Regions from separate parts of the Homo sapiens genome. Here region 1 is linked to region 2. The links come from fine-mapping of genetic effects on plasma protein levels. A gene starts in region 2. The other region holds a variant in brackets. All regions are shown on one strand. Distances are from middle to middle.

The links. A credible set is the group of variants that fine-mapping cannot tell apart. PIP is the chance, under the fine-mapping model, that this variant and not a neighbour inherited with it causes the effect. Protein levels are from antibody-based Olink assays in UK Biobank. Linkage for the fine-mapping came from a reference panel and not from the study's own genotypes, which makes the PIPs less certain.
Region 1: its variant is the best candidate, but not a certain one, in a credible set for the plasma level of the CA9 protein (UK Biobank, PIP 0.74).

The regions. Positions count from the first base shown.
Region 1 is chr9:35,159,732-35,168,060 of GRCh38, forward strand. UNC13B (unc-13 homolog B) reads left to right here and starts at 2,278. Exons shown (of 40, transcript NM_001371189.2): 1 at 2,278-2,574. The coding sequence starts at 2,553. RefSeq lists a silencer at 2,144-2,273. The variant T/C (reference allele first, on the strand shown) is at 5,043.
Region 2 is chr9:35,669,271-35,677,599 of GRCh38, forward strand. CA9 (carbonic anhydrase 9) reads left to right here and starts at 4,658. Exons shown (of 11, transcript NM_001216.3): 1 at 4,658-5,092; 2 at 6,268-6,297; 3 at 6,491-6,661; 4 at 6,794-6,936; 5 at 7,027-7,119. The coding sequence starts at 4,690. It also overlaps the pseudogene RN7SL22P.

The DNA.
Region 1 (8,329 bases), 510 kb before region 2:
AAAAAAAAAAGGAAACAGCCAAAACCACTTCCTATAAACTGTGCTCAGCCACCCGTAACTTTGTAGCTCTTTTCCAACAATATACACACCAAGGTCAAATCCTCTCACAGTGCAAGGTCATCTCTGGCACCCAAAGCCAAAAAGGTCAGGTCATGCAATACAGGAAAACAGAGCTTTAGACCTAAGAAGAATCTGCCCATGACTCTTGAAATCCCACAAAGCCAAGAGAACACCCCAAAAGGGGGTGAGTGGCACCTTTGTTCTAAATTCTTTTTTTTTTTTTGAGATAGAGTCTTGCCCTGTCACCCAGGCTGGAGTGCAATGGCACGATCTCAGCTCACTGCAACCTCCGCCTCCCAGGTTCAAGTGATTCTCCTGCCTCTGCCTCCTGAGTAGCTGGGATTACAGGCACGTGCCACCATGCCTGGCTAACTTTTTTTGTATCTTTAGTCGAGACAGGGTTTCATCATGTTGGCGAGGCTGAGTCTCGAACTCCTGACCTCGTGATCCGCCCACCTCGGCCTCCCAAAGTGCTGGGATTACAGGCGTGAACCATGGCGCCCGGCCTAAATTCTTTAAAGAGGTTCAAGTCATTAGAAGCCTTCTCTCGATTTTTTGGTAATGCAGATGGCAAAGGGTGAAGGAGGTATAGGGTGGAAGAAAAGTAAACAAAAGAACAATTGAATTTTTTTTTTTTTTTTTTTTAATTTGAGACAGAGTCTCACACTGTAGCTCAGGCTGGAGTGCAATGGCTCGATCTCCACTCACTGCAACCTGCGCCTCCTGGTTCAAGCAATTCTCCTGCCTCAGCCTCCCGAGTAGCTGGGATTACAGGCACCCGCCACCATGCCCGGCTAATTTTTTTTGTATTTTCAGTAGAGACAGGGTTTCACTATGTTGGCCAGGCTGGCCTTGAACTCCTGACCTCGTGATCCGCCCGCCTCGGCCTCCCAAAGTGCTAGGATTACAGGTGTGAGCCACCGCGCCCGGCCTAAGAACAGTTTAATTTTTAAGACCAGGAAGCAAACACAGAAACCAAATACATGGTTTTTTGTTTTCTGTTTGTTTTTTCTTTTGCAGCTGTGAGGAATTTTACTCAAATTAGATAGGCCTTGTTACCCATAATTTGGAATTCTCACTTGGATTTGACCAAGTGAAGTAGAGTTGGTCAATGGGAAAAAGACAAACAAAATAAAAAAAAACCCAACAATATGATCACTGAGCACTCTAATGGTAAGCAGAAATTAAGACCAGCTGGTTGTTAACTTTAGCCAAGACAAAAATCCCTATTCAGCTACTTACCTAGGGGTGCGTCTCAGGCTGAAAACGGCTGTCTACCATCCCAGAAGTAGGAAAAAAACCCCTCATCTTCCCTGTTGGAAGTGAGCTCAAACTCCATAAAAGAGTTACCTGCCTTCCCTCGTCATGGAAGCAGGAAAACTTGCCTTCCTTGTTGGAAGCAAGTAAAACTCCAAAATAATAATAATAATAATAATAATAATAATAATAATAGAGGGAGTTGTACAACAAAATGAACTTTAGATCTCGACCAAATTTTGGGAGATCAGGGATTCTCTGGAGGGGGTGCTCCTAGACCTTAGCAAATTGTCCTGTTGGTTTGAGCCATGGAGTTAGCTCATGTTGGTACCAAGCATGGATAGGAGATTTGTCAAAGATCAGAGGTATCTCCACTCACAATCCCTCCGTGGTTACCATCCTTCATTCAGTAAATATTTACGGACTGATTACCATACACTAGGCACTATTCCAGACATTGGAGATACAATGATGAGCATAAAAAACGGTCTAGATAAGAACTGAGGTCTCCAGACATACTTTATGCCCACTCAGTTTTGTCTTTTGCCCTAGTTGCTAAACAAAACTTAACTTTGCTGTGCGGTGCGACTTCGTTAACTTAAAATTACAGGCTGTCAGCTATGACCGCTAGACTCTAAGAAAGTCCAGTGGAAATCCTTCAATGAAAAGAATCTGTTCTTGGGTGGAAGCCCCGCTCATGCAGGAGGAACAGAGGGCTTCCATTCTCGCGTCACACAACTGAGGGTCAACCCCTTGCTCCCTGCAGTAAGCCTGATTAGTGGGCGGAGCTTCCTTCAGGATCGCAAGAAAGAAAGGAGGAAGGGGACCCCGCCTCCTACGTGCTCGCGGGGGGGGGCGGGGTCGGTGGACTGGGCGTGAGTTAATTGGCTGGGGGGCGGGGCACCACGGGTTGGCTCCGCCCAGGCGCTCGCGCGGATCCCGGGTGGAATGACGGGAGGGAGTCCCGGCAGCTCCTACCTCCCAGCGATGGCGTCGCTGTGCCGCGCCCAGTCCCCAGCCTGCCGGCCGGTACTCACCGCTACCCGGAGTTCGCTCAGACGGTGAGATTTGGGGCGGGTCCGAGGCAGCGGCGGGACGCTACCTGCGACCGGGACCATGAGGAGCTGCCAGACCCGTGGGGCCGGTAACGAGAGCAGTCGCGGCACCTGCTGAGAGGAAAGAGGGAGCGGTCCGGCGCGGCTGGGGCGCGGCAGAGGCTTGCCCGATCCTCGGCCATGTCACTGCTCTGCGTGCGCGGTGAGTGCGCGGACTGAGGCGGGGAGGCGGGGTGTCGGCGTAGAGGTCCCCGCACCCTTCCAGTGGACGTCCGGTGACCGTCTCACCCAAACTTTACATCCCGTCCGTGCTTTGGGGGTCTATTATTTTGGCAATCACTTAACAATCACTTGAGTTCTTTCCACTTTCTTGTTTTCCCCCAAGCTCCTGCAAGGGACGATTAGCTCTCCATTCTGGTAGCCATGTGACAATGTTGTTGGACTGCAGGCTCAGATCCTATTAAACAGTGACTGGGGTTCTCTAGTGAGAGTGGACGAGTTAGAAGACCGCGGATGGTTGGTGCCTGTGAATGGTGGGCAGCCTCTCATTCTTTTCCTCCTCCTCGCACCGTAACGCTACAGTATGCTTAGTAGCAGGTTCTTTTTATCACACTTTGAATGCGTTAGTGGTACAGCTGTCACATCCCTTCTATTGCTTGTCTTGTCCCCTGCCACTTCCCTGAACACTAACCGGTAGTATAGGCTAAGATTATTCTTCTGTTCCACTTGGGAGGATGTGGTGACTGCTTTTGAGGATAAGAGGTATGATTTATTTTTATTTTTATTTTAGCTTGCCTCACAGTAACTCAAGGTGAAGGGCCATTATTGCTTTTCCCCTGAGGACACTTGACCCATCTAAGAAGATATCTTAAAGCAAGAGCTTTGGGGTTTAAGATGAGGCATGGTACGCGAACTAAGTTCTATGTGGGTAGAGACTGTTTCTTATTAGTTTTTGTATTCCTGGTGTCTGACGTAGTAGAAGCTTAATGCTGGTTTTGAATGAATGCAAGTACTGTGACTTCAGAGAGATTATCTGATCAGGAAAACACAGGGTTTGGATTAGCCATTGAATTTGATCTCGGGAAATTCAGGTTACAGCCTATCATATCTGATGTGTCTTGATTATGAATGAGAGAGCATTTATCAACTAGAGCCTTTACCTGATATCTTTTACTGGAGAGTTCATATTTCTTTTGGCTCTACAGATTAGAAGCATTGTTGTTGTTTGTGATTTCTCCAATAACGATGTTTCCCCCAGCTACTGGCAGATGAAACTGCTTTGCTCTGTTCTCTTCCACTATTTTGTTGAATCTGCATTAACCAAAATGGATTTGGCCATTTCCCGGGATTATGAGATATACAGTTTTTCTTCTTTCATGGTTGATTTTTCATTAATGAGAATTTTGCTTTGCTTTTAGTAAGACATTTTCTCTCAGCAGCTGGGAATCTATTTATTCCTTTAGATCCCTGCTGCTGAGTAGCAGGATTTGGGAGAGGTTGGACTTTGCTGTGTCTCTTGGACAGTTTAATTCTCTACGGCCACACTGTATTACAGAGCTGGTCCTTATGAAAGACTCTTTAGGCAGGAGCACTCGTGAATCAGAAATTCCTATTTAACTGAATTTATATAACTACTGGTGTTTTCATTTGTTTTAATAGCAGGCAGGTTTCATTGTCTAGAAATTCTGCTATTTAGCTAACTTCTTTCCTTTTTAATGTTACTTTAGTGAAGTTTCTTCTTTTTTGAATCTGGAGAAACGAGATCAGCAGGCCATTGTCTTTTTGAATAGAGATCTAGAAGATTTTAAATACTGAAACAAACAGGTACCTTATATGCAGATATTCATATTGAATGGCAAAGTATTCATTTTGGGAAAACTTACAGAAATGAATTGAAATACATCTTTATTTTTATTTCTTTTTCTTTTTTTGAGACAGAGTCTCATTCTGTCACCCAGGCTGGAGTGCAGTGCTGCGATCTTGGCTCACTGCAACCTCCACCTCCTGGGTTCAAGTGATTCTCATGCCTCAGCCTCCCGAGCAGCTGGAATTACAGGAGTGAACCACCAGGCCCGGCTAATTTTTGTATTTTTTGTAGAGACAGAGTTTCACTGTGTTGGCTAGGCTGGTCTTGAACTTCTGACCTCAAGTGATCCATCTGCCTTGGCCTTCCAAAGTGCTGGGATTAGAGGCATAATCCACTGCACCCAGCACAAAATACATCTTTCTAAAATGACATTCCTTGCGTTGTATTTTGGCAGTAGGAATGTTGTATTCTGAAAGCAGTCTATATAGTGATATTTATTACAACTCAATTTCAATTCATCTTGGAGTAGAATCAATTAGAAACTTCCTATGCAGAGTTCAAAAAGTAGTTAACTTGATGTAGAAATTGGCAAACTGGTATTGAATTAATCATTCCTAAACATTTCATTCAAGAAGTCAGTTATTTTGTCTTGCCCTTTAATCATGCCTTATTGCCTGCAGGTTTAAGGCTCTCAATACTCTGACTCCAGACTTGTGGCCTTCTATTCTTGCCTATCCTTATGCAGACTTTGCTCTAGCACTAACTTTGTTTATTCCTGCCTCTGCTCTGTTCTGCACTTGTGCCCCCTGAAATACTCGTTCCATATTTTCTGCCTATCTAAAATGTATTCTTACTTTCCCAGC[T/C]AACAGTCTACTTTTTTTGTTGTTGAAAACTTCTTCAGGTCCCCAGTCCACAGTGATCTCTTTTTCCTTTAAATCCTCGGAGCACTTGTGGTCTGAACAGTGCCACTAGTTTGGAAATGAATCATATGCTGCCTGCAACTGGTCTTGTATTGTGGTGCTTATGGTGACCCAGACAAAGGAAGTAATTGCACTGGTCAGATCAGATCTGGAATTTTGTGTTCAGCTGTGGTATTTCCTTCTAAGAAGCATATTGAGAAGCTAGGTTATCTTAAGAGGGGAGTGATTAGAATAATGAAACATGTAGGAACCGAACCATTTGAAGAATATGGGAAATTTAGTTGTAGAAGATTTAAGAGGAAGAGGATCACGATAGTACATGAAGACTGTTTAAAAAACTGTCTTGTAGAAGTTATGTCACCTTTTTTGTTGTCATTCCAGAGGACAGAACTGGGACAAGTGTGGATCAGTGGTTGAAAATGACAGGAAATTAGATTTTAGCTTAACATAAAGAAGAACAGTTGGGTTGTTCAGAACAAATGGAATGGGCTATGTAGATTTTTTGACACTAAACAGAAATTGAATGAGTGGTAAGGATTCTAAAGGGGATATTGACCATTCAGCGGGTGATTGACTTGAATTTTTTTTTTTTTTTTTTTTTAATTTTTTGAGATGGAGTCTCTGTTGCCCAGGCTGGAGTGCAGTGGCATGATCTCAGCTCACTGCAACTTCTGCCTCCCAGGTTCAAGCGATTCTCCTGCCTTAGCCTCTGGGGTAGCTGGGATTACAGGCGCCTGCCACCATGCCTGGCTAATTTTTTGTATTTTTAGTAGAGACGGGGTTTCACCATGTTGGCCAGGCTGGTCTCAAACTCCTGACCTCGTGATCTGCCCACCTCGGCCTCCCAAAGTGCTGGGATTACAGGCGTGAGCCACTGCGCCCGGCCTAGACTTGAATTTTTAAGAAACCACTCTTTTATAGAATTCACTTAGTCTTTCTTTAAATATTTCCATAAGTATAAAGAAATATAAGTCTTTAACATGTTTTGGCACAGCTTTACTTATAATACGGATACTTTTTTTGGGCTTCCATAGGGACCAGTGCCACATGAACAACTGCAGTAAACTAAATTAAGGATTTTGTTTGACTTTTATTGTCTTGGTATTCACGACCAAGTTTCTCCAAGCAATTATAAGCATTTTTAGAATCAGACCTTTCCATAATATTTCTCTGTAATTCCCAGTGTTTATAACATAGTTATTCCCAGTGTTTATAACATAGTTAGATAATTTAACTATGGATTTTTTTCCCCCAAAAGTAATAAATGCAGGCCAGTCGTGGTGGCTCTTGCCTGTAATCCCAGCACTTTGGAAGGCTGAGACAGGTGGATCACTTGAGGACATGAGTTTGAGACCAGCCTGGCCAACGTGGTGAAACCCCATCTCTACTAAAAATACAAAAATTAGCCAGGTGTGGTGGTGCTCACCTGTAATCCTAGCTACTTGGGAGGCTGAGGCATGAGAATTGCTTGAACCCAGGAGGCAAGGTTGCAGTGAGCCAAGATCATGCCACTGTACTCCAGCTTGGGTGACGAAGTGAGACCCTGTCTCAAAAAAAATATGTGTATGGTAATACATTGCTAATTATAGAAAATTTAAAAAATGCAGAAAAGTACAAAAAAAGAAAAAAATTTCCATGGGCCTACCACCTGCCAATACCATTGCTAACTTTTTTTTTAAATTTAATTTTTTTTTTAAAGATGGGATCTCACTATGTTGCCTAGGCTGGATTTGAACTCCTGGGCTCAAGTGACTGTCTTTTCTCAGCATCACGAGTAGCTGGGACTACAAGGAACACACCACCACACCCAACTATTGTTAACTTTTTAATTCATTGTTTTCATTTTGTTTTTATTATAAGGTGATAAATATACAGATAAGAAGTTGAAACAGTTTAGAGTGTAAAGTAGAAGGAAAAGTTCTCTTGTCCCCATTCGGTATTCTTACTTCCCAGAGGTAACTACTGTTTACTGTCTCTTACCTATCCTTCTGGAAATTTTCATTGCAGATGAGTATATAGGTTCTGCAGTTGAATGTACATAGCATTCTTCAGCTTTTTTTGTTTTTTAACCTCAATGATCTATTTTCCTGTCAGGTCATCTGAGTCTAAACCAAGCTTGTCCAGCCTGTGGCATGTGAGCTGCATGTGGCCCAAGACGGCTTTGAATGTGGCCCAACACAAATTTGTAAACTTTCTTAAAACATTATGAGATTTGTCAGCTATCATTAGTGTTAGTGTATTTTTTTTATTTTATTTTTATTTTTTGAGACAGTCTCGCTGTGTCGCCCAGGCTGGAGTGCAGTGGCGCGATCTCAGCTCACTGCAACCCCTGCCTCCTGGGTTCAAGCGATTCTCCTGTCAGCCTCCCAAGTAGCTGGGATTACAGGCGCCCATCACCACGCCTGGCTAATTTTTTGTATTTTTAGTAGAGACAGGGTTTCACCTTGTTAGCCAGGATGGTCTCGATCACCTTACTTCATGATCCGCCTGCCTTGGCCTTGCAAAGTGCTGAGATTACAGGCATGAGCGCCTGGCCAGTGTTAATGTATTTTATGCATGGCCCGAGATAATTCTTCTTCCACTGTGGCCCAGGGTAGCCAAAAGGTTGGACACCCTGGTCTATACCATTCTTTTGAATGGCTGCAGAGTATTCTGTTATATAAGCATACATAATTTAAACAGTTTTATATTGATGATATTCAGGATATTTTTCTTTTCACTATTACAAACAGTGCTACAATGAACATCTTTGTAGGTTTTTTTTTTTTTTTTTTTGAGATGGAGTCTCACACTGTTGCTCAGGCTGGAGTGCAGTGGCGCCCTCTCTGCTCACTGCAACCTCTGCCTCCTGGGTTCAAGCAATTATCCTGCCTCAGCCTCTTGAGTAGCTGGGATTACAGGTGCCTGCCACCATGCCTGGCTAATTTTTTTTTTTTTTTTTTTTTGTATTTTTAGTAGAGAAGGGGGTTTCACTATGTTGGCCAGGCTGGTGTTGAACTCCTGACCTTGTGATCTGCCCTCCTCGGCCCCCCAGAGTGCTGGGATTACAGGCGTGAGCCACCACGTCCAGCCTGTAGATGGTTTTTAAACATTTGTTTTTATTTTTGAGACAGGGTCTTGCATTGTCACCCAGGCTGGAGTGCAGTAGTACGATCGTGGCTCACTGCATCCTCAAACTCCTGGGCTCAATCTGTCCTCCCATCTCAGTCTCCTGAGTAGCTGGGACTACA
Region 2 (8,329 bases):
GAACTACAAGTCAGCCTCAAGGTTCTACAAGGAATTTGATCAGTCTTTGCCCCCAAGCTATGGCTTGGGAGAGGGAGCATTTTCCCTTCTACCCCACCAGTGAATAGTTTCCTCCTCTGCCATGCTGGGATAGGCAGAGACATGTTTTAGTAACATGACCCCTCAGTGTTTGAAAACACAAACCCTCATGAGCAAACACTTGGCCTATAATAACCACAGAGAGGTCCTGATCCAGGTGTGGGGTGCCCTGGTCAGTCAGTCCTGAGTATACTCTGTCCCAACCCGGGGAGACTCAGGAAACAATAACTCAAACCTGTTTGAGGGTTTGGCAGACTCCCAGCATGATCCAGGGTCAGAGTCCACATTCTCCACTCAGACCAGAGACGAGAGAGACAGAGAAACAGAGCCATAGGGAATCGCATTTGAAAAATGAGTGAGCTGTAACAGAGAGCTGGATTAGTCGTTACCACATTCTGTCTTGTATAGGCCCATCCAATTCAGATATTACCATGTACTTCCATATGTCAGGGGCCAAGCAAGTTCCAAGCTAATGACAGAGCTGACCAAGACAATCAGCTGGCCATCCAGAGTGTACCCTGGACCACACTGCCATGGAGAGCTCTGAATTTGGCTCCAGAAATGGCACCCTAGAATCTTAGGCTGACTACATCTGAGGTTGACCATTTGGAGGACAGCTGTTATTCAGTCATATATATTTTGTTGTACAATATGACAGTCATCCGACAACACAGATGATTTGGAGTGCCACAAAAATGTGGTGTTGGGCCAGGCATGGTGGCTCACGCCTATAATCCCAACTCTTTTGGAGGCTGAGGTTGGAGGATCACTTGAGGTCAGAGGATCACTTGAGGTCAAGAGTTCAAGACCAACCTGGGCAATATAGCGAAACCCCATCTCTACAAAACAAATAAAAAAATTAGCCAGGGGTGGTGGCTTGTGCCTGTGGTCCTAGCTACTCAGGAGGCTGAGGCAGGGGGATCACTTGAGCCTAGGAGATCAAGCCTGCAGTGAGCTATGACGCCACTGTACTCCAGTCTGGGTGACAGAGTAAGACCTTGTCTCAAAAATAATAATAATGTAAAAAGTTATGTCATGTTTATGGGATAGTTGTGGACATGCACAGGTCATTGACAATGAGCTCCTTGAGGGCAGAGAATATATCTTAGTCAATTTGGTATTTCTCAAGCATCTGGCAAGGTAATCTGCAAAAAGAAAATGCTCAATAATGGCTGTTGAATAAAAGACTGACTCAATCAAGTACGGACCCTGCCCTTATGGAGCTGAAGGCCGTTAGAGCAGATAAAATGAGTTATCACCCTTATATGAGTTAGACGGTGGACAAAGTTATTATTGAGGGCAGGCAAAGAACTGGGTTGGCTCAAAGATGCCAGGGATCTTTTCCAGACTAGTGGTAGAGGGTTGGTTAAGGAGTTTCCTGAAGGAGGTGGCCTTTCATCTGAGTTTCAAAGAACAGAAGAGATTAGACAGGGAGGACAGTAAAATTTTTTTTTTTTTTTGAAACAGTCTCGCTTTGTCGCCCAGGCTGGAGTGCAGTGGCGCGATCTTGGCTTACTACAAGCTTTGCCTCCTGGGTTCACGCCATTCTCCTGCCTCAGCCTCCTGAGTAGCTGGGACTACAGGCGGCCGCCACCACGCCCGGCTAATTTTTTTTTTTTTTTTTTTTCAGTAGAGACGGGGTTTCACTATGTTAGCGACGATTTTTGTCTGTTTGTTTGTTTTTGAGACAGAGTCTCACTCTGTCGATCAGGCTGGAGTGCAGTGGCGCGATCTCGGCTCACTGCAACCTCTGCCTCCCAGGTTCAAGTGATTCTCCTGCCTCAGCCTCCTGAGTAGCTGAGATTACAGGTGCCTGCCACCATGCCCAGCTAATTTTTGTATTTTTAGTAGAGACGGGGTTTCACCATGTTGGCCAGGCTGGTCTCGAACTCCTGACCTCAGGTGATCTGCACACCTCGGCCTCCCAAAGTGCTGGTATTAGAGGCATGAGCCACTGCACCTGGCCAGTAAAACTATTTGTGACACAGCAGCAAGTGCACAAGCACTGACCTATCAGAGTTGAAGGTGGCTGAGGCACTCAAGTGGGCTCCTGGGGACTCTGTTATGCCAGGGAATACCTCTTTAGATAAGGGATCAGGAGGTCTGGAGGGTCCCTAAGGAAGAGCTAGGGTAGCAGGGGTACCCTGGAGCTAGGGGCCATGGCTATATGCCAACAGGATTAGAAATATCTTAATGTATTTAATTAACCTACACAACCATATTGGTGGGTGCCTACTGAATATTAGCCCTAGATATGGACCTGAAATGGCCTTATTCTCTTTTAGTTTGTTTAAGCCAATGGAGCCTTACTAGAATGTGAGCTACAAAACAGTAGAGCTATTCTCTATTCAATGCTGCATCTGTAGGGCCTAGAACAGCACCTGAAGGACTGGCGGAGGCTTAATAAATTGTTAAAAGGGCAGACTAGCCAGGTGTGATGGCGTGTGCCTGTAGTCCCAGCTACTTGGGAGGCTGAGGCAGGAGGATCACTTGATCCCAGGATTTCTGGGCTGTAGTGTAGTATACCAGTCAGGTGTCTGCACTAAGTTCTGCATCAACCTGGTTGCCTAAGGATGGTTGAACTGACCCAGGTGGAAATTGGAGCAGGTCAAAACTCAATGCTGATCAGTAACAGGGTCGCACCTGTAAATAGCCACCGCCCTCCAGCCTGGGCAACACAGTGAGATCCCATCTCTAAAATAAATTTTAAAAATAATTAATTAGAAAAAAAAACCAGCCTGTAATCCCAGCACTTTGGGAGGCCAAGGCGGGCAGATCACCTGAGGTCAGGAGTTCAAGACAAGCCTGGCCAACATGGCAAAACCCCAATCTCTACCAAAAATACAAAAATTAGCTGGGCGTGGTGGCAGGTGCCTGTAGTCCCAGCTACCCAGGAGGCTGAGGCAAGAGAATCGCTTGAACCTGGGAGGTGGAGATTGCAGTGGGCCGAGATCGCGCCACTTCACTCCAGCCTGGGTAGCAGAGTGCGACTCTGTCTCAAAAAAAAAAAAAAAGAAAGAAAAGAAAAGAAAAAGAAAAGAAAAGAAAAAAACTGGGAGGCCTAAGCCCATTCTTGGTGTCCTCACACTCTTCTGCCCCATCTCCTTGCACCCAGTCTTCCCCTGCAATCTGTGCTCCATACTAGCCCTCAAGCCCTCAACGTGACCTAGTATGAGAACTGGATTCTGTCACTCTCCTGCTCATAATATTTTATGCCTTCCCTTTGCCCAGAATATCATTCTCCCTATTGTTTTTACCAATGGAACTGGTATTTCTTCAAGGACATGATCAAATTTGCCTACTTCTATATTATCTTCTAAAGCAGAATTCATCTCTCTTCCCTCAATATGATGATATTGACAGGGTTTGCCCTCACTCACTAGATTGTGAGCTGCTCAGGGCAGGTAGCGTTTTTTGTTTTTGTTTTTGTTTTTCTTTTTTGAGACAGGGTCTTGCTCTGTCACCCAGGCCAGAGTGCAATGGTACAGTCTCAGCTCACTGCAGCCTCAACCGCCTCGGCTCAAACCATCATCCCATTTCAGCCTCCTGAGTAGCTGGGACTACAGGCACATGCCATTACACCTGGCTAATTTTTTTGTATTTCTAGTAGAGACAGGGTTTGGCCATGTTGCCCGGGCTGGTCTCGAACTCCTGGACTCAAGCAATCCACCCACCTCAGCCTCCCAAAATGAGGGACCGTGTCTTATTCATTTCCATGTCCCTAGTCCATAGCCCAGTGCTGGACCTATGGTAGTACTAAATAAATATTTGTTGAATGCAATAGTAAATAGCATTTCAGGGAGCAAGAACTAGATTAACAAAGGTGGTAAAAGGTTTGGAGAAAAAAATAATAGTTTAATTTGGCTAGAGTATGAGGGAGAGTAGTAGGAGACAAGATGGAAAGGTCTCTTGGGCAAGGTTTTGAAGGAAGTTGGAAGTCAGAAGTACACAATGTGCATATCGTGGCAGGCAGTGGGGAGCCAATGAAGGCTTTTGAGCAGGAGAGTAATGTGTTGAAAAATAAATATAGGTTAAACCTATCAGAGCCCCTCTGACACATACACTTGCTTTTCATTCAAGCTCAAGTTTGTCTCCCACATACCCATTACTTAACTCACCCTCGGGCTCCCCTAGCAGCCTGCCCTACCTCTTTACCTGCTTCCTGGTGGAGTCAGGGATGTATACATGAGCTGCTTTCCCTCTCAGCCAGAGGACATGGGGGCCCCAGCTCCCCTGCCTTTCCCCTTCTGTGCCTGGAGCTGGGAAGCAGGCCAGGGTTAGCTGAGGCTGGCTGGCAAGCAGCTGGGTGGTGCCAGGGAGAGCCTGCATAGTGCCAGGTGGTGCCTTGGGTTCCAAGCTGAGTCCATGGCCCCGATAACCTTCTGCCTGTGCACACACCTGCCCCTCACTCCACCCCCATCCTAGCTTTGGTATGGGGGAGAGGGCACAGGGCCAGACAAACCTGTGAGACTTTGGCTCCATCTCTGCAAAAGGGCGCTCTGTGAGTCAGCCTGCTCCCCTCCAGGCTTGCTCCTCCCCCACCCAGCTCTCGTTTCCAATGCACGTACAGCCCGTACACACCGTGTGCTGGGACACCCCACAGTCAGCCGCATGGCTCCCCTGTGCCCCAGCCCCTGGCTCCCTCTGTTGATCCCGGCCCCTGCTCCAGGCCTCACTGTGCAACTGCTGCTGTCACTGCTGCTTCTGGTGCCTGTCCATCCCCAGAGGTTGCCCCGGATGCAGGAGGATTCCCCCTTGGGAGGAGGCTCTTCTGGGGAAGATGACCCACTGGGCGAGGAGGATCTGCCCAGTGAAGAGGATTCACCCAGAGAGGAGGATCCACCCGGAGAGGAGGATCTACCTGGAGAGGAGGATCTACCTGGAGAGGAGGATCTACCTGAAGTTAAGCCTAAATCAGAAGAAGAGGGCTCCCTGAAGTTAGAGGATCTACCTACTGTTGAGGCTCCTGGAGATCCTCAAGAACCCCAGAATAATGCCCACAGGGACAAAGAAGGTAAGTGGTCATCAATCTCCAAATCCAGGTTCCAGGAGGTTCATGACTCCCCTCCCATACCCCAGCCTAGGCTCTGTTCACTCAGGGAAGGAGGGGAGACTGTACTCCCCACAGAAGCCCTTCCAGAGGTCCCATACCAATATCCCCATCCCCACTCTCGGAGGTAGAAAGGGACAGATGTGGAGAGAAAATAAAAAGGGTGCAAAAGGAGAGAGGTGAGCTGGATGAGATGGGAGAGAAGGGGGAGGCTGGAGAAGAGAAAGGGATGAGAACTGCAGATGAGAGAAAAAATGTGCAGACAGAGGAAAAAAATAGGTGGAGAAGGAGAGTCAGAGAGTTTGAGGGGAAGAGAAAAGGAAAGCTTGGGAGGTGAAGTGGGTACCAGAGACAAGCAAGAAGAGCTGGTAGAAGTCATCTCATCTTAGGCTACAATGAGGAAATTGAGACCTAGGAAGAAGGGACACAGCAGGTAGAGAAACGTGGCTTCTTGACTCCCAAGCCAGGAATTTGGGGAAAGGGGTTGGAGACCATACAAGGCAGAGGGATGAGTGGGGAGAAGAAAGAAGGGAGAAAGGAAAGATGGTGTACTCACTCATTTGGGACTCAGGACTGAAGTGCCCACTCACTTTTTTTTTTTTTTTTTTTGAGACAAACTTTCACTTTTGTTGCCCAGGCTGGAGTGCAATGGCGCGATCTCGGCTCACTGCAACCTCCACCTCCCGGGTTCAAGTGATTCTCCTGCCTCAGCCTCTAGCCAAGTAGCTGCGATTACAGGCATGCGCCACCACGCCCGGCTAATTTTTGTATTTTTAGTAGAGACGGGGTTTCGCCATGTTGGTCAGGCTGGTCTCGAACTCCTGATCTCAGGTGATCCAACCACCCTGGCCTCCCAAAGTGCTGGGATTATAGGCGTGAGCCACAGCGCCTGGCCTGAAGCAGCCACTCACTTTTACAGACCCTAAGACAATGATTGCAAGCTGGTAGGATTGCTGTTTGGCCCACCCAGCTGCGGTGTTGAGTTTGGGTGCGGTCTCCTGTGCTTTGCACCTGGCCCGCTTAAGGCATTTGTTACCCGTAATGCTCCTGTAAGGCATCTGCGTTTGTGACATCGTTTTGGTCGCCAGGAAGGGATTGGGGCTCTAAGCTTGAGCGGTTCATCCTTTTCATTTATACAGGGGATGACCAGAGTCATTGGCGCTATGGAGGTGAGACACCCACCCGCTGCACAGACCCAATCTGGGAACCCAGCTCTGTGGATCTCCCCTACAGCCGTCCCTGAACACTGGTCCCGGGCGTCCCACCCGCCGCCCACCGTCCCACCCCCTCACCTTTTCTACCCGGGTTCCCTAAGTTCCTGACCTAGGCGTCAGACTTCCTCACTATACTCTCCCACCCCAGGCGACCCGCCCTGGCCCCGGGTGTCCCCAGCCTGCGCGGGCCGCTTCCAGTCCCCGGTGGATATCCGCCCCCAGCTCGCCGCCTTCTGCCCGGCCCTGCGCCCCCTGGAACTCCTGGGCTTCCAGCTCCCGCCGCTCCCAGAACTGCGCCTGCGCAACAATGGCCACAGTGGTGAGGGGGTCTCCCCGCCGAGACTTGGGGATGGGGCGGGGCGCAGGGAAGGGAACCGTCGCGGCAGTGCCTGCCCGGGGGTTGGGCTGGCCCTACCGGGCGGGGCCGGCTCACTTGCCTCTCCCTACGCAGTGCAACTGACCCTGCCTCCTGGGCTAGAGATGGCTCTGGGTCCCGGGCGGGAGTACCGGGCTCTGCAGCTGCATCTGCACTGGGGGGCTGCAGGTCGTCCGGGCTCGGAGCACACTGTGGAAGGCCACCGTTTCCCTGCCGAGGTGAGCGCGGAGCTGGCCGAGAAGGGGCAAAGGAGCGGGGCGGAGCGGGGCCAGAGACGTGGCCCTCTCCTACCCTCGTGTCCTTTTCAGATCCACGTGGTTCACCTCAGCACCGCCTTTGCCAGAGTTGACGAGGCCTTGGGGCGCCCGGGAGGCCTGGCCGTGTTGGCCGCCTTTCTGGAGGTACCAGATCCTGGACACCCCCTACTCCCCGCTTTCCCATCCCATGCTCCTCCCGGACTCTATCGTGGAGCCAGAGACCCCATCCCAGCAAGCTCACTCAGGCCCCTGGCTGACAAACTCATTCACGCACTGTTTGTTCATTTAACACCCACTGTGAACCAGGCACCAGCCCCCAACAAGGATTCTGAAGCTGTAGGTCCTTGCCTCTAAGGAGCCCACAGCCAGTGGGGGAGGCTGACATGACAGACACATAGGAAGGACATAGTAAAGATGGTGGTCACAGAGGAGGTGACACTTAAAGCCTTCACTGGTAGAAAAGAAAAGGAGGTGTTCATTGCAGAGGAAACAGAATGTGCAAAGACTCAGAATATGGCCTATTTAGGGAATGGCTACATACACCATGATTAGAGGAGGCCAGTAAAGGGAAGGGATGGTGAGATGCCTGCTAGGTTCACTCACTCACTTTTATTTATTTATTTATTTTTTTGACAGTCTCTCTGTCGCCCAGGCTGGAGTGCAGTGGTGTGATCTTGGGTCACTGCAACTTCCGCCTCCCGGGTTCAAGGGATTCTCCTGCCTCAGCTTCCTGAGTAGCTGGGGTTACAGGTGTGTGCCACCATGCCCAGCTAATTTTTTTTTGTATTTTTAGTAGACAGGGTTTCACCATGTTGGTCAGGCTGGTCTCAAACTCCTGGCCTCAAGTGATCCGCCTGACTCAGCCTACCAAAGTGCTGATTACAAGTGTGAGCCACCGTGCCCAGCCACACTCACTGATTCTTTAATGCCAGCCACACAGCACAAAGTTCAGAGAAATGCCTCCATCATAGCATGTCAATATGTTCATACTCTTAGGTTCATAATGTTCTTAACATTAGGTTCATAAGCAAAATAAGAAAAAAGAATAATAAATAAAAGAAGTGGCATGTCAGGACCTCACCTGAAAAGCCAAACACAGAATCATGAAGGTGAATGCAGAGGTGACACCAACACAAAGGTGTATATATGGTTTCCTGTGGGGAGTATGTACGGAGGCAGCAGTGAGTGAGACTGCAAACGTCAGAAGGGCACGGGTCACTGAGAGCCTAGTATCCTAAGTAAAGTGGGCTCTCTCCCTCTCTCTCCAGCTTGTCATTGAAAACCAGTCCACCAAGCTTGTTGGTTCGCACAGCAAGAGTACATAGAGTTTGAAATAATACATAGGATTTTAAGA